Linked DNA regions of Homo sapiens. The protein of the gene in region 3 purifies or fractionates together with the protein of the main gene of each other region. This does not show direct contact. Each region holds a gene or a part of one and is shown on either strand. Other genes may lie near its edges.

Evidence for each region.
Region 1: the proteins of TNKS1BP1 (region 3) and EARS2 purify together in Homo sapiens (affinity purification with mass spectrometry, with the first as the bait; one large-scale study listed by BioGRID). This does not show direct contact.
Region 2: the proteins of TNKS1BP1 (region 3) and LMAN2 purify together in Homo sapiens (affinity purification with mass spectrometry, with the first as the bait; one large-scale study listed by BioGRID). This does not show direct contact.
Region 4: the proteins of TNKS1BP1 (region 3) and CNOT9 purify together in Homo sapiens (affinity purification with mass spectrometry; 2 studies listed by BioGRID and IntAct, with this or other methods). This does not show direct contact.
Region 5: the proteins of TNKS1BP1 (region 3) and CAPZA1 purify together in Homo sapiens (affinity purification with mass spectrometry; 3 studies listed by BioGRID and IntAct, with this or other methods). This does not show direct contact.
Region 6: the proteins of TNKS1BP1 (region 3) and SPTBN1 purify together in Homo sapiens (affinity purification with mass spectrometry; 2 studies listed by BioGRID, with this or other methods). This does not show direct contact.
Region 7: the proteins of TNKS1BP1 (region 3) and CCDC61 purify together in Homo sapiens (tandem affinity purification; one study listed by IntAct). This does not show direct contact.

Annotation. Positions count from the first base shown.
Region 1 is NC_000016.10:23,533,351-23,536,850, forward strand, and holds part of EARS2 (nondiscriminating glutamyl-tRNA synthetase EARS2, mitochondrial), read right to left. Parts: intron 2,011-3,500; coding exon 1,538-2,010; intron 1-1,537. UniProt on the Homo sapiens protein: Non-discriminating glutamyl-tRNA synthetase that catalyzes aminoacylation of both mitochondrial tRNA(Glu) and tRNA(Gln) and participates in RNA aminoacylation for mitochondrial protein translation.
Region 2 is NC_000005.10:177,331,067-177,334,668, forward strand, and holds the end of LMAN2 (vesicular integral-membrane protein VIP36 precursor), read right to left. Parts: intron 3,338-3,602; coding exon 3,218-3,337; intron 1,181-3,217; coding exon 1,020-1,180; 3' UTR 501-1,019; downstream 1-500. UniProt on the Homo sapiens protein: Plays a role as an intracellular lectin in the early secretory pathway. Interacts with N-acetyl-D-galactosamine and high-mannose type glycans and may also bind to O-linked glycans.
Region 3 is NC_000011.10:57,304,453-57,307,952, forward strand, and holds part of TNKS1BP1 (182 kDa tankyrase-1-binding protein), read right to left. Parts: intron 1-3,500.
Region 4 is NC_000002.12:218,595,210-218,597,580, reverse strand, and holds the end of CNOT9 (CCR4-NOT transcription complex subunit 9), read right to left. Parts: 3' UTR 501-2,371; downstream 1-500. UniProt on the Homo sapiens protein: Component of the CCR4-NOT complex which is one of the major cellular mRNA deadenylases and is linked to various cellular processes including bulk mRNA degradation, miRNA-mediated repression, translational repression during translational initiation and general transcription regulation.
Region 5 is NC_000001.11:112,654,332-112,657,831, reverse strand, and holds part of CAPZA1 (F-actin-capping protein subunit alpha-1), read right to left. Parts: intron 3,368-3,500; coding exon 3,161-3,367; intron 1-3,160. UniProt on the Homo sapiens protein: F-actin-capping proteins bind in a Ca(2+)-independent manner to the fast growing ends of actin filaments (barbed end) thereby blocking the exchange of subunits at these ends.
Region 6 is NC_000002.12:54,644,827-54,648,326, reverse strand, and holds part of SPTBN1 (spectrin beta chain, non-erythrocytic 1), read right to left. Parts: intron 3,099-3,500; coding exon 2,874-3,098; intron 2,400-2,873; coding exon 2,310-2,399; intron 2,134-2,309; coding exon 1,852-2,133; intron 1,197-1,851; coding exon 1,066-1,196; intron 1-1,065. UniProt on the Homo sapiens protein: Fodrin, which seems to be involved in secretion, interacts with calmodulin in a calcium-dependent manner and is thus candidate for the calcium-dependent movement of the cytoskeleton at the membrane.
Region 7 is NC_000019.10:45,998,467-46,001,966, forward strand, and holds part of CCDC61 (centrosomal protein CCDC61), read left to right. Parts: intron 1-3,500. UniProt on the Homo sapiens protein: Microtubule-binding centrosomal protein required for centriole cohesion, independently of the centrosome-associated protein/CEP250 and rootletin/CROCC linker.

The DNA.
Region 1 (3,500 bases), on a different chromosome or scaffold from region 3:
AGGTTGGTCTCAAACTCCCAGGCTTAAATGATCCTCCTGCACTGGCCTCCCAAAGTGCTGGGATTACAGACATGAGCCACTGTGCCCGCCCTCCTTCTACTTTCAAACATAAGGGAGGCTGAGTGAGCAAGCCCTGGGCCCCCCATTCCACTTTGCCCAAAGGGATTTAACTTCTAGCTATTTATATATCAAGAGCCTGAATGAGCTTTCATTTTCAGAAAGGGTTCCATCATTAAAGAAAAAAAGGTCTGAAAACAATCAGGCTAAACCCATCTCCATTACTCTCAAGACACGAGCTGCAGAACAGTACGCCCATTGCCTGGCTGTACCAGAGACTCTGAGTCAACTGGGTTTGGTTGGGGTCTGAGCATATTTTAGAAGCTTCCTAGCTGATTCCAAAGCACGATCAAGAGTTAAGAACCAGGCCAGGCACGGTGGCTCACGCCTGTAATCCCAGTACTTTGGGAGGCCAAGGCGGGTGGATCACCTGAGGTCAGGAGTTCGAGAACAGCCTGGACAACATGGTGAAACCCCATCTCTACTAAAAATACAAAAATTAGCCAAGCGTGGTGGCGGGTGCCTGTAATCCCAGGTACTCGGGAGGCTGAGGCAGGACAATCGCTTGAACCCAGGAGACGGAGGTTGCGGTGAGCCGAGATCGCGCCATTGCACTCCAGAATGGGGGACAAGAAGTTCTGTCTCAAAAAAAAAAAAAAAAAGTTAAGAACCGTAGTGCTGGGAGCTGCTTCTTGTGAGCAGCAGCTCAGTCCCATACGGTCAGCAGGCATCGTGATCAGGCATAGGCCTAAAGCGCTATATCCCTCACTAGGTGTGTGACTTTGGCAAGTTACTCAGCTTCTCTGAGCTTCACAATCCTCTTACAAACAGTGGAGATATGTATCTACCCCTTAATAGTATGTTGTGTTAAATGAAATGAGACCAGCAGGCAGGCTATTCTGGACACATTTTCAGAAATCCTTCAGGTCATCCTATTTGATGCTTGCTTCTTCAAGGTTTGGGTCTAAGTCTTGGACCATGGGTAAGTGCTCAGCTTGAAATAAACTAGATTCATCTGGCAGTAAAATGAAGAAGGAAAAAAAGAAACTAAATCCATATTAATTCTAGTCATACTGTTAGCATACATGCTTGTAATAATTGTCACAATCATAGGGTCTGTCATTTTTTGTGCTTACAGTGTGACAGGTGCTGGGCTGGGTACCTTACACTCCTGAGCTCAGTGAATCCTAACCCAATGAGGTAGACACTTATCCCCATTTTCCAGATATGCAACTGAGGCTCAGAGACTATAAGTCCCTTGAGGGCAGGGATCATGTCTATCTCACCCACTACTGTAGCCCCAGCACTTAATGTGGTGTCTGGCAAAATAAACATTTATTGAATAAAAGAATAAACTTGTCCAAGGTCACCTGGCTGGTAGGTGGCAAAGCTGGGACCAAAGAGCAGGACTGTCTGAGCCAAAGCCCTGCTCCTCCTGGCCATGCTCTCTGCTGCCAGGACTATTCAGGTGGGCACGTACCTGCAAAACCTGAGCCACAGTTGGTGATGATGTCCAACAAGGAATCGGGCAGGAAGCCATCAGCAGCAAAGTGCTCCAGGAAAACGTCCCCTTGCCTCTTGGAGAGCTTGCTGCCATCCCTGTTGAGGAGCAGGGGCAGGTGGGCGAAGTGGGGTGGCTGCCAGCCCAGGGCCTGGTAGAGGAGCAGGTGCTTGGCAGTGGAGACGAGCCACTCAGAGCCTCGCAGCACGTGGCTGATGCCCATGTGGTGGTCGTCCACCACGCAGGCCAGGTGGTATGTGGGGAAGCCGTCGCTCTTCATGATGACTGGGTCTCCCTCCACGCTGGCCACTTCATGCCTATTCCAGCCATAGACCAGGTCCTGGAAGGCTGGCACCACCTGCTCCAGGCGGAAGCGGATCGCAGGCTTGGGGTCCTTGGCCAGCTTCTGGGCCACCTGCTCCTGGCTCATGTTCCTGCACCGATTGTCATACCTGATGGGGAGCAGAGCAGCATGAGTACTGTTGATGGAAAGGTTGATGGACAGGAGTCCTACCTCTGTCATAGCTGTGTGACCTTAAGCAAGTCAGTTACTGCTGCAAGCTGCTTCCTCAGTCTATAACAGGGATGATGGTACAGTTGTGTGGAAAACTGAGATAACATGGTGTAGCAGACACTAATGTCTGCCTATCTACCAGCCATTCCACGCTTCTTCCTTGCTAACAAGAAAATAGCAAAATGCTTAGTCCGAGGGGTTGAATCCTGATTGGTATAGCCAATCTTGCAATCCTATTGCTCCATGCCAGTGACCAGTCCAGGCAGGAATGTAACCCCATCCTAGTCACTGGGATGCAAAGAAAAGCATGCCTGGGGAGTAAGAAAGGTTTAAGGTTCCGGGAAAGGTTTTTCTCTCCAAAGGACAAGAAGAGAAAGCCACAGGAGGAAAATCCCTTCTTAAAATTTCCCACTGCCCCACTTCTGTCCTCTTTGGATGTTGTCCTGTAAGGGGAGCATGCTTGGACCTGCGGCAGCTACTTGCAACTGCAGGAGGGAAGGCAATGAAGTCAGAGAGAAGCCAAAATAGAGCCCTGGTGTCTCTACACTGCTAGTCTCATCCTGGAGTCACCCACCTCCAGCCTTGTGCAGAATCAAAAGACAAATGTCTATGATTGATGCCCTGGCTACTGAAAGTGTGGTCTGTGGGCCCCTAGCATCAGCCTCTTGGGAGTCTGCCAGAAATGCAGACTCTTAGGCTCCACCCCAGACCTACTGAGTCAGAATCTGAACATTAACTAGGTCCCCAGGTGATCCATCTGTGAGTTAAAGTATCGTTTGTCCCTTCTAACAGGGTATTCCACTAACTGCACCCAAAAGCGTTCTGAGACACAGATGGAATGCTTGTAAGGTTAGTCTTTGCCACAGCTAAGTGTTCAATCAATCAATAAATGGTGCACAGGGCTGGACACAGTTGCTCACGTCTGTAATCCCAGTGTTTTGGGAGGTCAAGGTAGAAGGACAGCCTGACCTCAAGGGTTCAAGACCAGCGTGGGTAACATAGCAAAATCCTGTCTCTTATTTAAAAATTTAAAATACCAGCCTGGGCAACATAGTGAGACTCTGTCTCTACAAAACAAAACAAAACAAAATCAGCCAGGTGTGGTGGTGCATTCCTGTAGTCCCAGCTCTGTGGGAGGCCAAGGTGGAAGAATCACTGGAGCCCAGGAGGTTGAGGCTGCAGTAAACTATGATGGCACCACTGCACTCTAGCCTGGGTGACACAGCGAGACCCTGTCTCAAAAAAAAAACTTTTTTTTTCTTTTTTTTTTTTTTTTTTGAGATAGAGTCTCGCTGTGTCACCCAGGCTGGAGTGCAGTGTCGTGACCTTGACTCACTGCAACCTCCACCTCCAGGGTTCAAGCAATTCTCCTGCCTCAGCCTCCTGAGTAGCTAGGATTACAGGTGCCTGCCACCACAACCGGCTAAT
Region 2 (3,602 bases), on a different chromosome or scaffold from region 3:
CAGCCACAGCTGGGGGCGACGATTATGGAAGCTGCCGGGGGTGGTGCCATGCCTTCAGCTGCTGCCTTTCCTCCACTCCCCGTTATCATCTTTGTCCCCTGAGGTGCCCCAAAGGGACTGCCACAACCACCCCCACCATCCTCCAGCCCCTTGCACATCATCCCAGAGCCCCCCGGAGTTCCCCGTCAGTGTACCCGCCTGCCCAGCCAAGCCTCCACGTGGTGCCCCTTACCACCCATCCTTTTACCCAGAGGCCCAGAGCATGTGGGAGACAGCACAGGGCCCCATCCCCAAAACATCACTTGCCAGGTGACACTGGGCAAGCTGTACTTGACCTCTGAGAGCCGTGTGTCCCCAGCTGGGAAACAGGGCAACCCATCCCATCCTCCGGGACTCTGCAGGTCAGAGCAGACGAGCTGAAAGCTCTAAAGCACTGGCGGGCTGGAAGTCATTAGAAGAGAAAGCAAAGCAAGCCCCTCAGGACAGTCACACGGCTGAGGTTGGGTATTTCACTTTATTTAGCAAACGGTCACACTCGGCCCCACCACACCGCGCCTGCAGCCTCACTTGAGCATCTGTCTCAGGAAGCAGCTCAGGGTGAACAGGAAGGCCTGGGTTTCCCAGTTCAGGCCTTATCCGTCGCCACACGTGCCACACACCACAAAACAAAATCACTTCCCCACGTCCTCAGGAGCCCACCCCAGTGTGGTCCGGGGGACCCTCCAGTGTTCAACAGCTGCCTGCAGGGGCCACAGCCCATCTGTAGACACAGACCCCTGCTCCTGAGACACCAGCCCCAGGAGAGCCTCCGTCTCCAGCTGTGGGGGGTGCCAGACCCTAAGCCTCGGCTCTGCCACCTGTCCCTGCTGGGCAAGAAGCAAAATGTATGAAAATACTTTAATCATTTATTTGAAACAGTTAAGAAATAAGGTCATCTTGTTGTTCTTTTATAATCCCGGTAAAAAAAAAAGTTCACATTGGCTCCTGGGCCCAGGGACAGGCCCCGCCGGAGGCGCCACTCAGTAGAAGCGCTTGTTCCGCTCCTGCCGCTTCTGGAACACCACGGCCCCCACCACGGCGCAGACAACGATGCCCAGGAGAGCGCACAGCAGCAGCAGGAACACCCGCCACCCCGTCAGGGGCCCGCTGCGGAAGTTCCCCGTGGGGTCGTCCACGTTGTCTGGGGGAGAAGAAACGGGGGAGCTGAAACGGCAGCACGGGCCGGGGATCAGGGGGCTGCAGGAGGGCAGTGGGGATGGAACAGGACAGCCGGCCACGGTGGGCAGGCCGGTCGTACTCACCCCCCTCACCGGGGAGGGGCAGAGGTCAGGTGAAGCCCATCCCAGCCAGCTCTGCAGTCCCCAGGGCAGGGTGGGGCAGAGAGAGGACCAAGCCCACAGGGACCCGGGACCCCAGCGACAAGCCTGGGCTGCCTTCTGCTGCAGGAAGCCAGTTAAAACCAGACTCCTGGGCTCCTCTGAGTCCAACTCTGGATAAGGGGAGGCCCAGGAGTCTACATATCCAAGCCCCACCCCCACGCTGTGGTCTGAGGGCCCTTTCTGGAGCAGCGCGGCCCTGGTCACAGGCTCTCCCAGCCCACAGCTGGATGCTCTCGGCAGCCCCCCAGGAGGGTCTCCCAGGACCTGAGTCCCACACTCCACCCCAGCCCACAGCCTCTCTCCTCCACACAAGGTTCCCACAGGTCCTGCCCATCCTGGGATGGGGCCCACTGGTACGCTCCCTTGTACAGGCGGAGAGAAGACACTGACTTTCCCAAGCTCTCCAGGCTGTGGGTGGAGGAGCTGGGGTCTGGCTGGGCCCTGTTTCTGCCACTCTGCCTCCCTCCCTGACTGCGGCCCCCCCGACTCCACACTGTACAGTCTCCTCAGGCGTCCCCACACCCAGGCCTCGGGCCCAGGCCCTGCCTTTCAGCGACGTGCATGCCACCCTCTTGCCAGCCACAAGCCAACCTCCATCCTCCCTTCCTGCACAAGCTGCCACCAGCAGGCCTGCTGACCACTCTCGCCCCAGCCTCTGCTCTGCACACCGACAGCAGCGGCCACTGACCGAACGCGGAGGTCCCTAGGGATGGTGCTTCCCCAGAAAGCCACTCAGCCTCAGGGCTCTCACAGCTCCCTCTGTCTCCCTGTCTGCCGCAGACCCTAGAATGAGCCCCAGGGGCAGGGCCTGCCTGATCTCGTGTCTCCAGCACCCAGCCCATGGCTAGGCACAGAGGGCAGCTTTGGTCACATCTGAAGGAACAAATGGATTGAATCTAAAAACGAGTTCATCCTGCCTTGCCAGCTGCACGGGATGCTGGGTGGGCAAGGCAGGTGCCACCTCTGCAAACACCCAGCAGCTGGCAGCCTTCTGACCAAAGGTTGCAGCAAGGTTTGTGTGGTCCCCAAAACATTTCAAAATAATCTGAATCTTTAAAAAGTGAACTGTCACATAAAACACTGGATCTTGGCTTCTCCTGAAAAGCAGAAACACGCGGCCAAACTGGCCCACACGGCATGGGGACCCAGGGCTGGGCTACGACAGAGCCCGCGCCGTGCACTTCTGTCACTGGCTGGACCCCCAGGCACACATCTGTGGCTCTTAGGGTGGACTTCTCCACACACAGATGCCTCATTCCTCCAACCACAACGTTCACTCTGTGAGGAAAGGGGTAGCTAATTAGTGCCATGGGAAGAACCCAGGCTTCGGGTTTTGTAGAAACCCAATTTCCAATCTTGCTCTCTCTCTCCTTCTAGCTAAGGAATCCACCCCCTTGACCAGCAGCACGACTTCTTCCAGGTGGCTCACAGAAGGGACAGGTGGGCCAACATACCCAGCCCCCTGGCTCTGCTGGCCACTGCCCCAGCACCTAGTGAGGGAGGATGCTGGCCCACCACTCACACGTTTGTTGATCAGCCACTGCTTGCTGCCACAGCACTCACGTGACTAGGATGTCCTCAGGGACTGACTCTCTGCAGACTTCTCTTCCGCCTCATTCATTTACTCAAAAACTTGCCAGAGCTGACACGATCCAAGCCCAATACTCTAGGAGCTCGGACAGGGCCAGCCAGTGCCGCTTGCCAGGACCGGGCTGATCCAAGAGCCCAGACCACAACCACCACAACCACGACTGGACCACAAGACCCGCCAGGCTGGCTTCACCCCATTCTGGGTCAGGCCGCCCAGGCCCAGGCAGGGCGGGGCTGTGCACACGCACCTTTGGGCGACTTGAGGAAGTTGACGCTGGGCTCGATCTTGGTCCAGTCGATGCTCTCCTCGTCGGGCGTGTGCTCCACCATCAGCTGGAACAGCTTCATGGAGATGATGTCATGATTGTCTGCAGGACCAAGAATAAACCTGTGACAGCCTACAGGCCAGCCGCAGGGCACGTGGCCCAAGACCCTCCCACAAGGAAAGCTGCTGCTGCAGCCAGTAAACCTGCCAGGCCCCTGGGGAGAGCACTGCCCAGCCGGCTAGGGCCTGTTTTCTTCCCAGCTCCCTCCAGTCACCAGCAATAAAAAAGAGAGGAGGCAGAGTGGAGAGAAAACAGTAAGGGCTTTACAAGCAGAATCATCTGGGTCTAAATCCTGGGGTCTGCCGCC
Region 3 (3,500 bases):
CAGCTTAAAATCAGGGAGAATTTGGAGGGAGGGGGTGGCAACAGCACCCCACCCAGACTACAGAGGCCAGGCCCAAAGCCTCTCCCTGGGGTGGGGCAAAAGAAGGCTAAGGGCAGGCCCCATGAGCTAAAGAGATGTGAAATGCCCTGGCTCACGCCTGTAATCCCAGCACTTTGGGAGGCCAAAACAGGCGGATCACCTGAGGTCAGGAGTTCCAGACCAGCCTGGACAACATGGTGAAACTCTGTTTCTACTAAAAATACAAAAATTAGCCAGGCATGGTGGCAGGCACCTGTAATCCCAGCTTCTTGGGGGAGACTGAGGCAGGAGAATCGCTTGAACCCGGGTGGTGGAGGTTGCAGTGAGCCAAGACCGCGCCACTGCACTCCAGCCCAGGCAACAAGAGCAAAACTCCGTCTCAAAAAAAAAAAAAAAAAAAAAAATCCACTCCTAAAGCGAGAGGTGGCCCAAGCCACTCAGGCAGAGGTCAGTGAGCTCTGGAGGTGGCCTTGAGGAGCAGAGAGTGGCGAGTGGGGAAAACCCAAGAAAGTGCAGCTACGTCCACCCCGCCGGACTAAACCCCACTCGCCCTTCACCCCATCTTAGAAGCAGCTTTCCTACCCCTAAGCACCCAGATCATGTATAAGCTGAGCCCCTCCCGGCATGGGAGCAGGAAAGAGGGGTAGTTAGGAACACAGGGACTGAGTCCTGCCACTCCAGGACACAGCTAGGCTCTGTCTCCTCCTATGCCTGTGGCTTTGACCACAAGTTATTTGTCCCACTCTGAACCTCAGTTTATCTGTAAAATGGGGATAATAAAAGTACATAAACTGTTCTAGTTTGTTGGCAGAAATATGTGCCTAACACATAGTTAGCACTTGACAAATACAACAAATTATTAGGATAGTCATTATCATCCTCAACACGGGTCCCTGGCCAGAGAGGATGTGCCTCATCTTGTCGCATCTACACCCTTCACCTGGTCTAAACTTTAGAGTACCCTGAGGACCAAGACGGTATCCCACCCCACCCTCCACCACTGCTCCAGAGGCAAACATGGCGCTGGAACTACAAAACGTGAATATCCCAGTGTTCTGAGACCTGAAATGAGGGAGGGGTGAAGCTGGAAAGATGTGTCTAGAGAAATAGCAGCTGACCTTGACCCCAGAGAGACAGGGAGGGTGCCCAGAGAAGACTGCACGGCTTGGGCCCAGGGAGACAAGAAGAACCCACAGCCACCAGCCGTGGGAACCGGTGCAAGTCACACTGCCTCTCTGGGTCTCAGTTTCCCTAGTTTTTGTGAGGAACAATTAACAAAACCCCATGAGTACTGGGAGTAAGTTACTCCCAACTTACAGACGAGGAATCGGAGGCCCGCAGAAGAGAACAAACTTGCCCAAGGTCACAGAGGTGGTGACAGAATCAGAACGCAAGCCTGGCAGATGGACCCAGAGCCAGACCCCTCTGAGCTATTCTCAAGGACTTCTCGTTACAAAGGGAACCTCCAAAATTTTCTTTAAAGAGAAAGTGCCCATAGTGGGCCAGGCATGGTGGCTCATGCCTGTAATCCCAGCACTTTGGGAGGCCGAGGTGGGTGGATCACCTGAGGTCTGTCTGGAGTTCAAGACCAGCCTGGCCAACATGGTGAAACCCCATCTCTGCTAAAAATACAAAAATTAGCCGGGCGTGGTGATGTGCGCCTGTATTCCCAGCTACTCAGGAGGCTGAGGCAGGAGAATCGCTTGAACCCAGAAGGCAGAGGTTGCAGTGAGCCAAGATCGCACCACTGCACTTCAGGCTGGGAGCCTGGGCGATAGACCAAGACTCCGTTTCAAAAAAAAAAAGAGAAAGTGCCCATAGTGTAGAATTTCCCTACATCAGAATTTCCCTGCTCAGAACACTAGGTTCTTGGACATTAGCCAAATTAGCTTGGAAAATACTGCATTACTTGTCTTTAAGGTACTAATATATGCTAATATACAGACTAAGTCTTCTGTACGGCCACAGAGTACCCAGCATTTTCCAAACATATTCACAGACTGGTATTCTTTAGGACACATTTTAGAAAAGGCTGCCCGAAAGCATAAAATTCAAACAAGCCCCTCGAACTCCTCTCTAAAGCAACTGTTTTCGTTCGGCTTTTTGAGGAGCCGTGCTTTCTGTTAGGAGCCACGCTTTCTGTTGCATACAATGAGGCTCACCTGTATGGCATCACGGCTAACCCCTGAACTCGGGTTAAAGTCAACACTGGCCAGATTACGGTAACACAACCACAAAAGCCTGGGTGTTTTAAAGACACAATGATGACACTATCCTCCTCTTCCCCTAACCTAGTCCCATCACAATCCCCGCCCCACCTCCCTCCATCCTAAACTAAGGGAACAAGATGATCACTTTCCACTTCTTAAGAGCCACCCCACACAGAACGGAAAGGCAGAGAGCTGTGGTGGTGGGGGGGGGGGTTGGGTGGGAGGGGGGCAGTGGTCCCACAGTGGCCACACCTGAAAGCAGTTAACATATACAAGTGAGAAAGAGGTACTCCTGACTCTTTGCCCTTAAGGGGTCACACCACCTTTCGACCCTCCAGCGGAGAGGATAAAAATCACTTTCCTGCTTCACAGAGCAGCTGTGAAGATCAATGAGGTAAGACGTGTGGTTAAGCATGGGGTGTGCAAAGTTCTATGAGTCCCAGGAAGAGAAATCAGGAACAACCACGCCAAGCCTGGACTCTCCCCTGCACCAAGAACATTAAAGCTGGAACTCTGCACTTCCTGAGTCAAACCCTGAGAAACTGAGGCTCAGAGCCCAGCAACCTGCCCAGGACCACAAGGGCCTCCCAACTCCTAGTCCTGCGCCCTCCCCTCGTCCCTGCAGTCCTCAATGCAGCCTCAGTGGTTCCCTGTGCTCCGTCACCACCCCGTCAACAGCCTGAGTCGTCAGGAAGCTCCACTTCCTCAAATCCCCCTGGGCATCTCACTGGGCCCATCTTCCTCTCTCCCTTCTCCTCCTCCATCCCAAATGCCTCTCCAGAGTCCCCAAGACCACCATGATATGCTCTAGCCCCTTCCTGCTCCTCTCCTCCCACCACCAACCCCTTCCACTTATAAAAGCCCCTGCCCCACACTTCCCTTGCCTTCCCCACATACCCAGTGAGAAGCTCCCACTGTGGGGCTGGAAAAGGTAACATTTTCTGCTCACTAAAGGGAATAAAAGCGAATCTCAATGGATGGAAATGTTAACAAAACGGATGCAATGCCTTTTTAGCACGTTTCTCAGCTGCAAAACCATCTCAGCTGGTTTTAAAACATCCATGAAACAGACTGTGCTTGCCTTGCAAAGCCTTTGGAAAGTTCTTTCAGCAAATTTGCACAGAGGCCAAGGTCATGGGGCCAGGTCCCCATACCCTTCAGGTTCTTGAACTTGCTATTCCAGGCTTCAAGACAGGACAGGCAAGAAGCACCAAGTACCTAACCTCTTTGAGAACCCGTGGGTTCCACTGT
Region 4 (2,371 bases), on a different chromosome or scaffold from region 3:
GAGTGCAGTGTTCTATGAATGTCATTTAAGCCAGGTATGTTAATTGTTATTCAAATTTTCTGCTTGTTGGCCAGGCACAGTGGCTCATGCCTGTAATCCCAGCACTTTGGGAGGCTGAGGCTGGCGGATCACCTTAGGCCAGGAGTTCGAGACCAGCCTGGCCAACACGGCGAAACCCCGTCTCTACTAAAAATACAAAAATTAGCAGGATGTGGCAGCGGGCGGCTGTAATCCCAGATACCCAGGAGGCTGAGGCAGGAGAATTGCTTAAACCTGTGAGGCAGATGTTGCAGTGAGCTGAGATTATGCCACTGCACTCCAGCTTGGGAAACAAGACCGAAACTCCAATTCCCAAAAACAAAACAAAACAAACCAACAAATTTTCTATTTGTTATATCTGCTTTTGAAATAAACATATGAAAATATTTTTCCAAAAATTAAATTCCATAATGTATCAGGAAAGAAAAATATAATTTCATTCTAAGGTTTCCTATTCCAAATTTTTTCTCTGAGTTTTTGAAAGCAACAACTTTGTATATCCCCCTTTTCCTAGCCTTTAAGCAGCAGGAACAATGAGCAGAGGAATAATATGTAGTTAGTAAGCAAGGCATGCTCTGAAGGCTACCAATGCTGCTCCTGTTCCACCAGTGAAACAGGCCACAGGCCCTCTAAGGCTCTTGAAAAAAGAACGTGGAAGCATAGGGCAGCTGTGTCCCACTGACAGCCAGGCATGGAAACAATCCTGGAGATGTGCTCCAAGCCTTGAACTTGAGGAAATGAACATCAAAGTTCGTAAGATGTTTCAAGCATTACCTTGTCACTATGGAAGTCTCTCCCTACACTGGCACTAAGTTCTGGCCAATATGGCCAGGAGTGAAGTTCTGTCCCAGTAAAACATACTTTTATCAGGTAAGGGGCATCATCCCCCTCCCAGCCTCCCAAACAGCTTTTGTACCTCAGATGGAGTCTCCCCAAAAAACATGTTCACAAAAGAACCACTACTGCCATCTTAGCAGGGCTGTGTGTGTGTGTGTGTGTGTGTTGTGTAGGTAGACAGAGGGGAGAAGCAGGCATGACAAGGATCACCTGACCAAAGTGCCTAGTTACCCATATACTGATAGAATAAAATCTCCAGTGTAAAGGAAAAATTATTTTTACAAAAACAGAAGCATGTTTTATTTCAATCCTGTTAAGGGAGAGGGATGGAAAACACAAAATAAGGGGAGGGGTCTCTTTATATAATACACACACCAGGATCAACTACAATGAATAATACCCATTCCATCCCTCCCCCACCAACTCCTATGTGGGTTCCAAGGCCAGCTGAGAATAGATGGGACAAGAATTAAGACACTTTGGCACAGTAACATGGCCAATGCACCGAAAGATGGAGAGAAGAGAATTTCCCAGGGAGCAAGGCCCTGGGCCTCAGCTGCTTCCCCAGTGGAGGGGTAATGAGAAAACTTTGGCTCAGCAGGAAGGCGGTTGTCAAAAATCTGGGTTACCTTAACTGGACTCTCCAGATCACAGACTACGGGCTGAATAGAGTCAAGATGTCTATCCAGTCCATTCTGTTCTCTGCTTTCTCTAAGATCACTTCTCTTCAGGCTTGCAATTATTGAGGGTTGGCCTGCTTCTCCTCTTCATCTTGGAAGGCAGGGGGAGTAAGTGCTTATTCTGCCCTTCCTATATCTAGGCCACTTAATTACTATTTTCTTGGCTCTAAAGAGACAGAAGCCAACTAACAAGTCCGGCTCTCTTTGTGAAAGTCGGCTTGAAAGAGCCCTTGTGTTGGCAAAACTGCCTCTGCAAATGGGTTTTTTTTTTTTTGAGCCTACCCCTTATAGACCCTCCCCAAGCTTGTTCAGACACCTCAATTGTGTGAGATGTGGGCAGAAAAGACTTGGTCCCTCTCCAGAGTTGGATTAAGCAATCCCATCTTTGACTGGAGATAGGGATGAGAAAGCAGGTGCTAGCAGGGGAAAGAACCGGGGAAAGCAAGGCAGTTTACACTAGGTTGCAGATTCAAGCCTATGGATTGTGAAGAGCCACCTAAGCTCCAGAGAAGAGGAAATCTCTGACACGATATGAACAAGTGAATATTTTAGCGGCAACCCTGTAATTCCCATAGACTAAAAGAGAATGGTCAAAAAAAAAAAAAAAAAAAAAAAAAAAAGACTGAGTGAGCAGAACCCAGCCCTCCATCTTCAATCTGAATAAAATTAACTCATACAGCTAATACTGCTCAAGTACAATCATGAAGACAGATGGAGCTGCTGAAATTCACACTAAAACAAAGAAAAGGATCAAGTGGACTGTCACCTTAATCCCAAGCACCTCCCTTTTAGAGTTATTGAGAAAATATCTTTGA
Region 5 (3,500 bases), on a different chromosome or scaffold from region 3:
TTACCTGAGGTCAGGAGTTCAAGACCAGCCCGGCCAACATGGTGAAACCCCATCTCTACTAAAAATACAAAAATTAGCCAGGTGTGGTGGTGGGCACCTGTAATCCCAACTACTAGAGAGGCTGAGGCAGGAAAATCGCTTGAACCTGAGAGGCGGAGGTTGCAGTGAGCTGAGATCATGCCACTGTACGCCAGCCTGGGCAAAAAGAGCAAAACTCCATCTCTAAAAAAAAAAAAGAATTAGGGGTTGCTGACAGCAGCCTAAGTAAAAGATAATTTCTAGAAGTGGTTGATTGGCTTCAGTGTGAAATGCCATTCGGAAGTCATGGACAAGGAAAAGGACACTGGACCAGGTAACTCAGGAACCATTAGTAAACTCAGAGCAGTTTCTGTAGAATGGAGACTAAAGTAAAAAATTAAAGGGTTCAGAAGTAGATAGAGGAAATGGCATTAGCAGGCAAAGAATATGTACTGACGTGGTGGTGATGCAGAGAGAGATGAGAGAAGGGAAAAAGTGGAGAAGAGGGAGAAAGGGCAAGGTGGAAAGGGCAGACAAAGAAGGAGAAATAGGCCGGGCCTGGTGGCTCATGCCTTGTAGTCCCTACACACACACAACACACACAGAGAAAAATTAGATAGGTATGGTGGTGTGCACCTGTGGTCCTAGCTACTTGGGAAGCTGAGGCGAACGGATTACAAGGTCAGGAGTTCAAGACCAGCCTGGCCAACACAGTGAAACCCCGTCTCTACTAAAAATACAAAAATTAGCCAGGTGTGGTGGCAGGCGCCTGTAATTCCAGCTACTCAGGAGGCTGAGGCAGGAGAATCGCTTGAACCCAGGAAGGGGAGGTTGCAGTGAGCCGAGACCACACCATTGCACTCCAGCTTGGAAGACAGAGTGAGACTCTGTCTCAAAAAAAAAAAAAAAAAATTTCTGTCAGTTTCAATCCTTACAAAACATGGGGGATTAGATGCCTGTCAGAGGACAATGAAAAATGTTTGGAACATACTATGTAGAAAATGTGATAGGGAATAAGGAGATGAAATTACGGACTACTAAGCAGGTCAGCTGAAGACATAAGACATAGGATACTTATATACAGCAGACACCATCACAACAATTCCATGACTTTCTGTAGGTCATTTGATAGCTAAGGACACAGTAGGGTTATTTGGTGCTGGAGCTCTCCAAATTAAGAATGGGTAGTGACAAACTTTGAACAGGTAACAAACAATAAATTCAAAGTATATTTAGGATTAAACAGTCAATTTCTAAATGGGAGTCTATCATGTCTCCCCTTTGCAATACTGGCTTCCCAACAGGAATTCTATACTTGTCCAGTCCACCATAATGGGTATTCTCATTAAAAAAAAAAAAAAAAAAAAAAAAAATCAAACATAATGACACCTAGCCTAACATTCATCTAACATTTATGTAGAGCTTACTTTGTGCCAGGCACTGTTCCAGGCATATATTACATATATTACTAATTCATTAAATCTTCACAACAACTCTATGAGATAAAAACAATTATTTCCATTTTACAGTCAAAGAATTGAGGCACAGAGATGTTAAGTAATTTACCTAAGGTCACACAACTAATTAATTGGCAGGGCCAGGAATCAAACCAGTTAGTAAGGCTTCAAAGTAGGTGCTCTTAACTGTATTCTAGACTGCCATGTAATTCATCATCATTGTATATTTAAAATATTCTAGTGAAAATTGCTGATTTTCCCACAACAAAAAAATGATAAATATGTATAGAAATCCATGTTATTAGCTCAATATAGCCATTCCACAATGTATACATATTTCAAAATATCATGTTGTACATATCATATTTTTGTCAATTTAAAAATAAAAAATATTCTAATCAATATTTTTCTTAATATGCCATAATTTTATAAAGGAAAAATAATAAAGCCAAATTTATCTATTTTTACAGTCAAGAGGGAGTAAAAGAAAATTAGGCCAGGTGCAGCAGCTCACGCCTGTAATCCCAGCACTTTGGGAGTCCGAGGCAGCTGGATCACCTGATGTTAGGAGTTCGAGACCAGCCTGGCCAACATGGTGAAGCTCTGTCTCTACTAAAAATATAAAAATTAGCCAGGTGTGGTGGTGGGCACCCGTAATCCCAGCTACTCAGGAAGCTGAGGCAGGAGAATTGCTTGAACCCAGGAGATGGAGGTGACATTGAGCTGACACGGTGCCCCTGCATTCTAGCCTGGGTGACAGAGTAAGACTTAGTCTCAAAAAACAAAAGAACAACAACAACAACAGCAAAAACAACAACAAAAAGAAAATCACTCCTGATTAAAAAAAAATTGTTTGGTTTTTTTTGTTTTTTGTTTTTTTGAGACAGTGTCTCACTCTGTTGCCCAGGCTGGAATGCAGTGGTGTGGTCTCAGCTCACTGCAACCTCCACCTCCCTGGTTCAAGTGATTCTTGTGCCTCAGCCTCCTGAGTAGCTGAAACTACAGGTGTGCACCACCACATCCAGCTACTTTTTGTATTTTTTAAGTAAAGGTTTCACCATGTTGGCCAGGCTGGTCTCGAACTCCTGGCCTCAAGTGATCTGCCCACCTTGGCCTCCCAAAGTGCTGGGATTACAGGCATGAGCCACCATGTCCAGCCAATTGTTTAGTTCTAATAGTTTTGATTACTGAATATAAACATCTAAACTATGTAGAAGTAGTTTGTGTAAAAATGCCTATATCAAAAAGCCATAAATATGAGCAAAAGCTCTCTCAACAATCTTAGTATACCATTTTTTTCTCCATGTCCAAACCAAAGACCTTTTAGATCTGGGTAAAAATACAAACAAAAAAAAATTAATTTAAAAGGTTAATTTAAAAAAAAGAAAGAAAAAAAGAAAAACCAAAGACCTTTTTCTGATGGGTGTAAGGCATTTTTCATAAGTCAAATGTGAAAACAGAATACACTGATACCTAAATTTTTTGTGCATTGGGATTTTAAAAAGAAATTTTCCATATAAAAATTTCATTTATACCCCTTTCCAAAATGATTTAGGGAATAAAATGCAGAGGAGAAGAGAGCATGGCTAAGAAGAAAGTAGGGATGTTTGGTAGGCCAAAGCCTCCAAAGGATAAGGTAAATATAAGAAAACACTCTCTGATAACGAAGCAGTCAGATACTTAACAGTACAGAAGCCGTTGGAATAATGGTCTTTCACATAGGCTCTTAAAGCACTGTCACAGGATTCTCTCCAAGACTTCAGACCTCCATCTGCTTCTTCTGGCTGGGGGTCACTTGCTTCTTTCCGTAAGTGGTCAAATTTAAAGGAAATTTTGTTTCTTGGATCTAAAAATCTGCTATTACCCAGGTCACCGTGCTCTGTAATTAAGACCTTCCAAAGAATCATTAAACATATGAGTAACTGTAAAAAAGACAATTCTTACTGCCTTTTATGAAACACATCAATAAAAATTCTGAGGCAGTTAACTTTTCATTTAGTCAGATTTCTTTCATATTAATTTTTC
Region 6 (3,500 bases), on a different chromosome or scaffold from region 3:
ACAAAGGACATGTTGGTGCCTATCCCTGGAGACTAGGAAGGCCACTTTCCTGGGAATCCTGATCATGAACATCTTAAGAACCTCCTACACCAACAGAGCCACTGACCTCATCTCCCCTAACCTGCCCTGGTTAAATGCACAAGGCCAATTCCTTTCCAAGTCATAAAAGGCATTTACACAAAAATCCTAAAATGACTGCTTTGGAAGTTAATACAGGGGCCTGATGAGTACCACACACTCACCTCTTCTTTTTCCTCGAAGGTGTTCTAATCACTTGATATCGAAGAGTTAGGAGGTGTTATCACTTTGTTCTTCCTGGGAGCCCCTTCATTTTACAGGTCTATGCATTCTTGTCTAATGCTCCTCTTAAAACTAGTAATTACTTTACTAAACTGGATGACTTTTTCAACCCAAGTGTAAGTGCTATGACTATCTGTATCCACCATGCAAGTCAACCTGTACTTCTGATCATTTTTATTTTTTTGAGACAAGGTCTCACTCTGTCACCCAGGCTGGAGTGCAGCAGTGTGAACATGGTTCACTGTAGACTCAAACTCCTGGACTCAAACCATCCTCCCAACCTCAGCCTCTTGAATAGCTGAGTAGTACAGACGTGTGCCACCACACCCAGCTGATTTTTTGTATTTTTTGTAGAGATGAGGTTTCGCCACATTGCCGAGATTGGTCTTTGGCCCCCTGGGCTCAAGCAATCCTCCCACCTTGGCTTGGTAAAGTGCTGGGATTACAAGTGTAAGCCACTTTACGTTGACTGCCCAGCCTAGTCAACCTGTACTTTTGACTCACGACACCAATATTCTTTCAGGAGAGCCTTGGCCAACGGGAGATATTTAACCCACAAGAGCAATTTCCTAATATAACAGTTCACCCATCCTAATCATGATAGGATGTTTTAAATGATGGGTCTGTTTTAAAAATGCTTCTCAAAGATTTGCCTTACCAGCAAGTCATGATGAATGCTGACATTTTCTTTTGGTGGGGGTTAGCAAGAGACCCTAACTGAGAGGAATCGAGAGCCGGGTCTCACACTCATGAAGCAGCGCTCACCTTTCAGGATGGCTGTCGGCCACCAGGGCCCGGCTGGTCTTGGAGAGCTGATGCACGGTCTCTGCATAGTCCTCCACAGCTTGTTCTAAGATCTGGTGCTTCTTCAACATGGAGACAGCACTCTGCTCATCCTGCAAAGACAGGAGAACATCACAACCATAGCGGTCCCCTCTGGCCCTACCCCTTAAGGAGTGACAGACCAGCTGCTCAGCAGGGTAGGAGGAAGGATCAGTAGAAAGAAAAACTCCAGAGGTGCAGTACGGACAGTGGAACACAGAAGTGTTCCAAGAGCTTCCATATGGACTGGACCACAGAAGCCTGTGCAGAAGATAAACACAAGGAGAACGCAGAATGAGCAGGGCCCCTCTCAGAGAAAAGCTTGGGCAGACCAAGTGTGCCTGGTTCGCTGGAATTCCTCAAGGTCCCTCAAGTATGTAAATGGCAGCATTCCTGGAACCTTGCAATACTTTCAAATTGTCTCCAAGCCATCCTGTATTTTGTAAAGTTTAGGGAACCTATAAATAGACAGCAGGAAGGACTCTGGCATATTTCAAAGATGAAAGGATGAACCTGTTCTTAATGGCACACTAGGATTCAGATAAGAAAATGCTGCACCAAAGGGAAACCAGCAGCTGGATTTCAGACACCTTCATGCACATGGTGTCCCCTTAACACTCAAAGGCTACAAGGGAAGTTTTTATACAGACAGAGCCGCCAGCAGAAAGTGTGCCCAGGGTTTGAATCTGAGGCTCTCCTGGGACAGGGATGCTTCCCGCCTCCTCTCACCTTGGCCTTCTCCTCTGACATCATGTACAGCTCCTGCTCGCTCATCCAGGCTTCGGCCTCAGCAGCGTCAAAGTAGTACTGCTGGGCCCTGTGCGCCTCCTCCAGCCGCCTGTGGCGTTTCTCTGTCTCCTCAATGAGGAGACCCCACAGCTGCTTCAGGTCGGCAAGCCTCTGTCTGATGGCCTCAGCGCTGAGGCTGCTGCTGTCAGTGACGATGTTTTGGCTCCTCTCAAAGATGTCGTCAATGCGAGGCTGGTGCCCCTGGATTTCTTTCTGGAGGGTCTGGAGGGAGCGGAAAATACACACAAAGGCTTGCTAAATGGCAGCCGTCTGCTGCTTATGTCAAGCTGTTAGGGCCAGAAAGAAATAGCAAGGCTTCAAAGCTCTCTGCCATTCCCAGTCTCATAATTTAGAGCAATTATTTATCAGACAGAACTAGCTCGAGCAGAAAGGCTTACCTGATTTTTCTTTATTAACAGCTGCACAGTCTGGAGGTTGTGGCCATGATCCGTGGAAGTTGCCAAAGGCATCCTCTCTCCAACCCACAACTGGGAAGAATTTTAAATAAGTGGTCAGATCCACTCAGAGGAACAAATATACGACACAAACGAGCAGTGAGGGGCAGTGAGGGACAGCAAGGGTGAGCTTCAGAGAGTGCTCAGCCCCCTCGGGAGGGCTGTCTGGGGAAGCACGCCCTTGTTCTCCGAGACAGGGCTAGGGAGAGTCTTTCCAACTCTACCTCATCCTCAAGGTCAAACTCACTGTGAGTCCTCATTACTTTTAAAAAGTCTGTTTTAGGGCCATTAAAATCCTACAGTATCCCTAGATAACGTGAGAGGACCAATGGAGTTACATTTAGGGTGAAAAGGGAAAGAAACTTTAGACCATCCAGAGCGTGGACTTTGGCAGCTCAGCTTGCCAACGTGGCCCAAGGTGAGGATGACTGAGAAGTGAGAATGTGGGCTTTAGCACAGGCAAGGGGGCTCGTGGAAAAGCCATGTGTGCAGTAGGGGTCGACTCACGATCTCGTCCTCCACATCCCTGTTGAACTGATGGATCTCTTTGGAGGCCAGCAGGTTATGCTTCCTCTCGTTCAAGGGCTCCAGCAACTCCATGAACTTGGTCTGCACGGTGAGGCGCTTGCTGTCTACCTCGTCGGTGCTCTTCCCTTCCTGACTCAGGGCCTGGGCTTGGCTTTGGAGCTCTTCGATCTCCTTCTTCCGCACTTCCATCTGATTCTCCAGCATCTGAGGGCAGAGAAGCAGCCTCAGCGCTCAGCACAGACTATCTTTTGCAGTGACTGGCTCTAAGCAGAACTGCTGGGCCTGGGACTTGGCCACACCGCAAAGCCAGCCATGGGAGCCACTCAAACATTTTGCCACTGACTTGCTTTTCAACATCAATGGAACTGTTTTCAAGTAAATCTGAGGTAAATTCATTTGCCCTTAAAGCCCTCTACGGTGATATAATATAAACAGTTATTTTTATTACCTATAAAGTGCCTTGAACAACTCAGATAACTGTCACAAATCACGATGTTAAACAACAAAGTATGAGAATATTTCTTTCGTGTAAAATGCAGAATTGAATGAGATGAACATTTATTTAACTGTTAAACGGTGATAATACCCATTAACTAAGAAAATTAT
Region 7 (3,500 bases), on a different chromosome or scaffold from region 3:
ACCCAGCCTGGGAGTCAGGGAGGGCTTCCTGCAGGAGAGGGGATTGGAGCTGAGACCTGGAGGATGACAGGGAATGAGCCGAGGGGAGAAAACCTTGGCTGTATCCCCAGTGTCTAGAACCCCATTCCCTGGCATCTCCCGTTAAATTCACAAGCAGTCCCTGAAGATACAAGATTGATTAAAATGGCTCTGCCCTCACGGGCTCCTGGTCTGTCAAATAATCAACAGATCACACAGATGGTAACAGGGAGTGCCAGCCACTGTTTGAAGCACCTTATATACACTAAATAATTTAGTTCAACAACAACCCTATAAGGTAGGAGCTCTTATTATCCCGCTTTACTGATGGGGGAAGGCCCAGAGAGGGCAAGTACTTTGCCCAAGGACACACCAAGGAGAAAGGCAGCTGGAATCTGAACCCAGAAGTACCCAGCCTGCAGCATGTGCCATGCTTAAGGTGTGAGGCCGCATTTGGGTTAGTTCTGGGAGGAAACAGGAGGTGGTCAGGGAAGGTCAGCTGGGTAAGGGGAAGGAAGACGAATGTTTCTGTCTTTCATGGTGGGATCCTAGACAAGCCTCAGTTTCATCCTCTGTATAATGGGGATGGTTATAATACCCACCAGAGAGCAGAATTTAGGGTGAGTCATTCATTGGGTTAATAAGTGTGCATGGTCCTTATCTAAGGCAAAAGTTTGCCTTTGAGAGACAGTGGGAGAGGGAGTTGATGCCCCAGGGGGAACTGGGGTGCCGCAGTGTGCACCGTAGAGATTTCATTGCTTGGTTCCCCAGAGGGCTTCTCTGTCTCTACAGTCTATGGGGACAATGTGGAAGGCTTTGGTCTGTATTCTGGGGCAGTGAAGGGGGGGTTCTATCCAGCCTCAATTCACCCACGTGGTGGGGAGGTGAGGTCAGAATGGGGTCGGGAAGGGGGTCATCCAGGCCAGGCCACGCGTGTGAATGTGGGGCGGAGGGCTGCTGCAGGAGAGAGCCCATCTAGGGTATGGCTGGGCTGGAATATGTGTTGGCGGTGGTGGGGAGCTGCAGAGTGTGGGGAAACAGCCATCAGGTGTGGGCTGCCAAGGGCAGTGATTTGCCCGTGTCTGGTATGGGAGGTAGTGATGTAGATTTGTCTTTGGTGAGCCCAGCGTGGAGAGTTTTCAGCTCCGGCCCCGGGGTAAGAGCTGTGAAATCTGTGAGCTATCTGGGGAGAGCCATTTGGAAGGTGGAGCCAGGGGTGGTGATGTAACGCTGGAAAGGAAAGGGGTCATCCTAGTGAATGATGAGAGGGAGAGAGCTGGGGGCTGAAACACTGGGTGTAAGTGTGCCAGCGCCATGATGTCATGAGGCCCGAGAAGTGGGTCAGGTGTGTGGGCCAGGATGGGGCCTGGAGGGCAGCCGCACAGTGCTCGCAGGGATGGGGTGGTGACGTCATGGGTTGGTGAGGGCGGGGCCTCGAAGGCACCGCTGGGATGCGTGAGGTCAGGAAGGAGGCAGAGGCTGAGAAGAGGAACTGGGAGAGGCTCAGGACTGGAATGAAATCAGCCACCAGGATGAGCCACTGGTCATTCCGAAGCAAGGATGGAGGATGCAGGTAGAGGGACAGGGTCAGCGGCGGGAGGGGAGAGGGGGCTCAGGGTCCGGGGAATCCTAGAAGTGGCGGTGGTGGTGGGGTCAGTGGAGAGGAGGGGTTGTTCAGAGAGGGCTCTCTAAAGGGAAGAGAGGTGGAAAATATGTGTGCGGGTGGAGTGGGGGTTGGGGGTGGGGTTACAAGCAATTTGGGAGGGAACAGAATCCAGGTGAAATATGGGAGTGATGGAATACAGGCTGAAAGTGGGATGTGTGGAGCAGAACCTTGAGCAAATATGCGGGAAGAATGCAGTTGGAATAACGGGGTGCATTGAAGTTGAATATGCGGGAGCCCTAGGAGACCGTGGGTGGCTGGTGTAGGGAGGAGAGTGCGGCTGCCTCCCTGCCCCCAAATCTGGGAGAGCAGGATGGAATGAAGGGGCTTTGGACGGGAGAGAGGGGGCTGGTTTCCGGGGAATGTAGCATGAGGGTTGGGCTGGAATATGTGGAGTGGGAGGTTCTGCAGAGAGGAGGGGAAGGGGAGTCCAGAATTCCGTGGCCATCTGGGGGACAAGTGACGGGCAGCTGGGGTCAGGGAGGCCGTGTGGAGCTGGCACGGGTGTGGGATTTATTCCATCAGCAGTTACTGAGCACTTAGGACATGCCTAGAGGAGGGGAAGGGGCCGGGCAGCGGGTGAAGTTTGTGGAGGTGAGAGAGGTGTAAGTGTGCAAGGGGAATTGAGTTTAGGCAGAGTATTCGGTGGCTCAGTGTCTGGGATCAGGGCGGGGTGGGGGCTAAGGACAAGGCAATGGGATGCCGAAAGGGGCTGCTCTTCGCGGGGTGGGTATGGGGGGTTTCTGCCGAGCAGTGGGGAAAGGGGAGTTGGCGGCGGGGATGCGGTGTGGCGGGCCCCCTTCCTCTGTGCGGTCTCCTCCCGGGAGTTGGGGACCACGAGTGGGGGCGGTGATGCTGTGCGGCTCCTCAGGTGTTCAGTTCCGTGGGTGCCTCCTACGCCTTGGTAACCCGGACGGTGTCGCCGCTGATAGGTTCTGGGAGCCGGAGGGGGTGGGGTTGATGGGCGGGGTTTAGAACACCCAGTGGGGCGGGGCCAGTGCTGCCACGCACTGCATTGGGGTCAGGGGATGTGGGATATGCGGCAATTTGTTTGCAGCAAGATCGAGATTATTATTTTTTATTTATTTGTTTTTTCTGAGACAGAATCTTGCTCTGTTACCCAGGCTGGAGTGCAATGGCATGATCTTGGCTCACAGCAACCTCTGCCTCCCGGGTTCAAGCGATTCTCCTGTCTCAGCCTCCCGAGTAGCTGGGATTACAGGCACCTGCCACCACGCCCAGCTAATTTTTGTATTTTTAGTAGAGACGAGGTTTCACCATGTTGGCGAGGCCGGTCTCGAGCTGACCTCAAATGATCCACCCTCCTCGGCCTCCCAAAGTGCTGGGATTACAGGCGTGAGCCAACGCACACGGACGAGATCGAGATTATTAACCTGGACTTATGAACCATCAGAGAATGAAAGCACAATTGCCAGAATGTGAATTTTCCAGGGGAAGGGGGTCCCCGAATTCATCAGCCCTTCCAAAGCACTCTTCTCCCAAATGAAGTTAAGAGCTGTGATCTAGAGAGAGGTGTCTGTCAGGAGGTCTAGGGCCTACGCCATTGCCCTTGGGCCTCTGAGAAAAGAGATCTGTGGATGGGCCTGGGGGGTGGTAATTTGGGAGCCACTGAAATGAACTTGCAAAAGGTTTTGGGACTATTCATTTATCTGCAGAAGGCTCAGAAATTTCATTAGATTCTCAAAGGCTCAAGGACTCTAAAAAGGTTAAAAATCCCTTACCTGGAGTTTCAAGGATCATCTTTTTTGCCTCACAATATTGTATTTTCTGATATTAGATTTTATTTTATTTTTTGAGA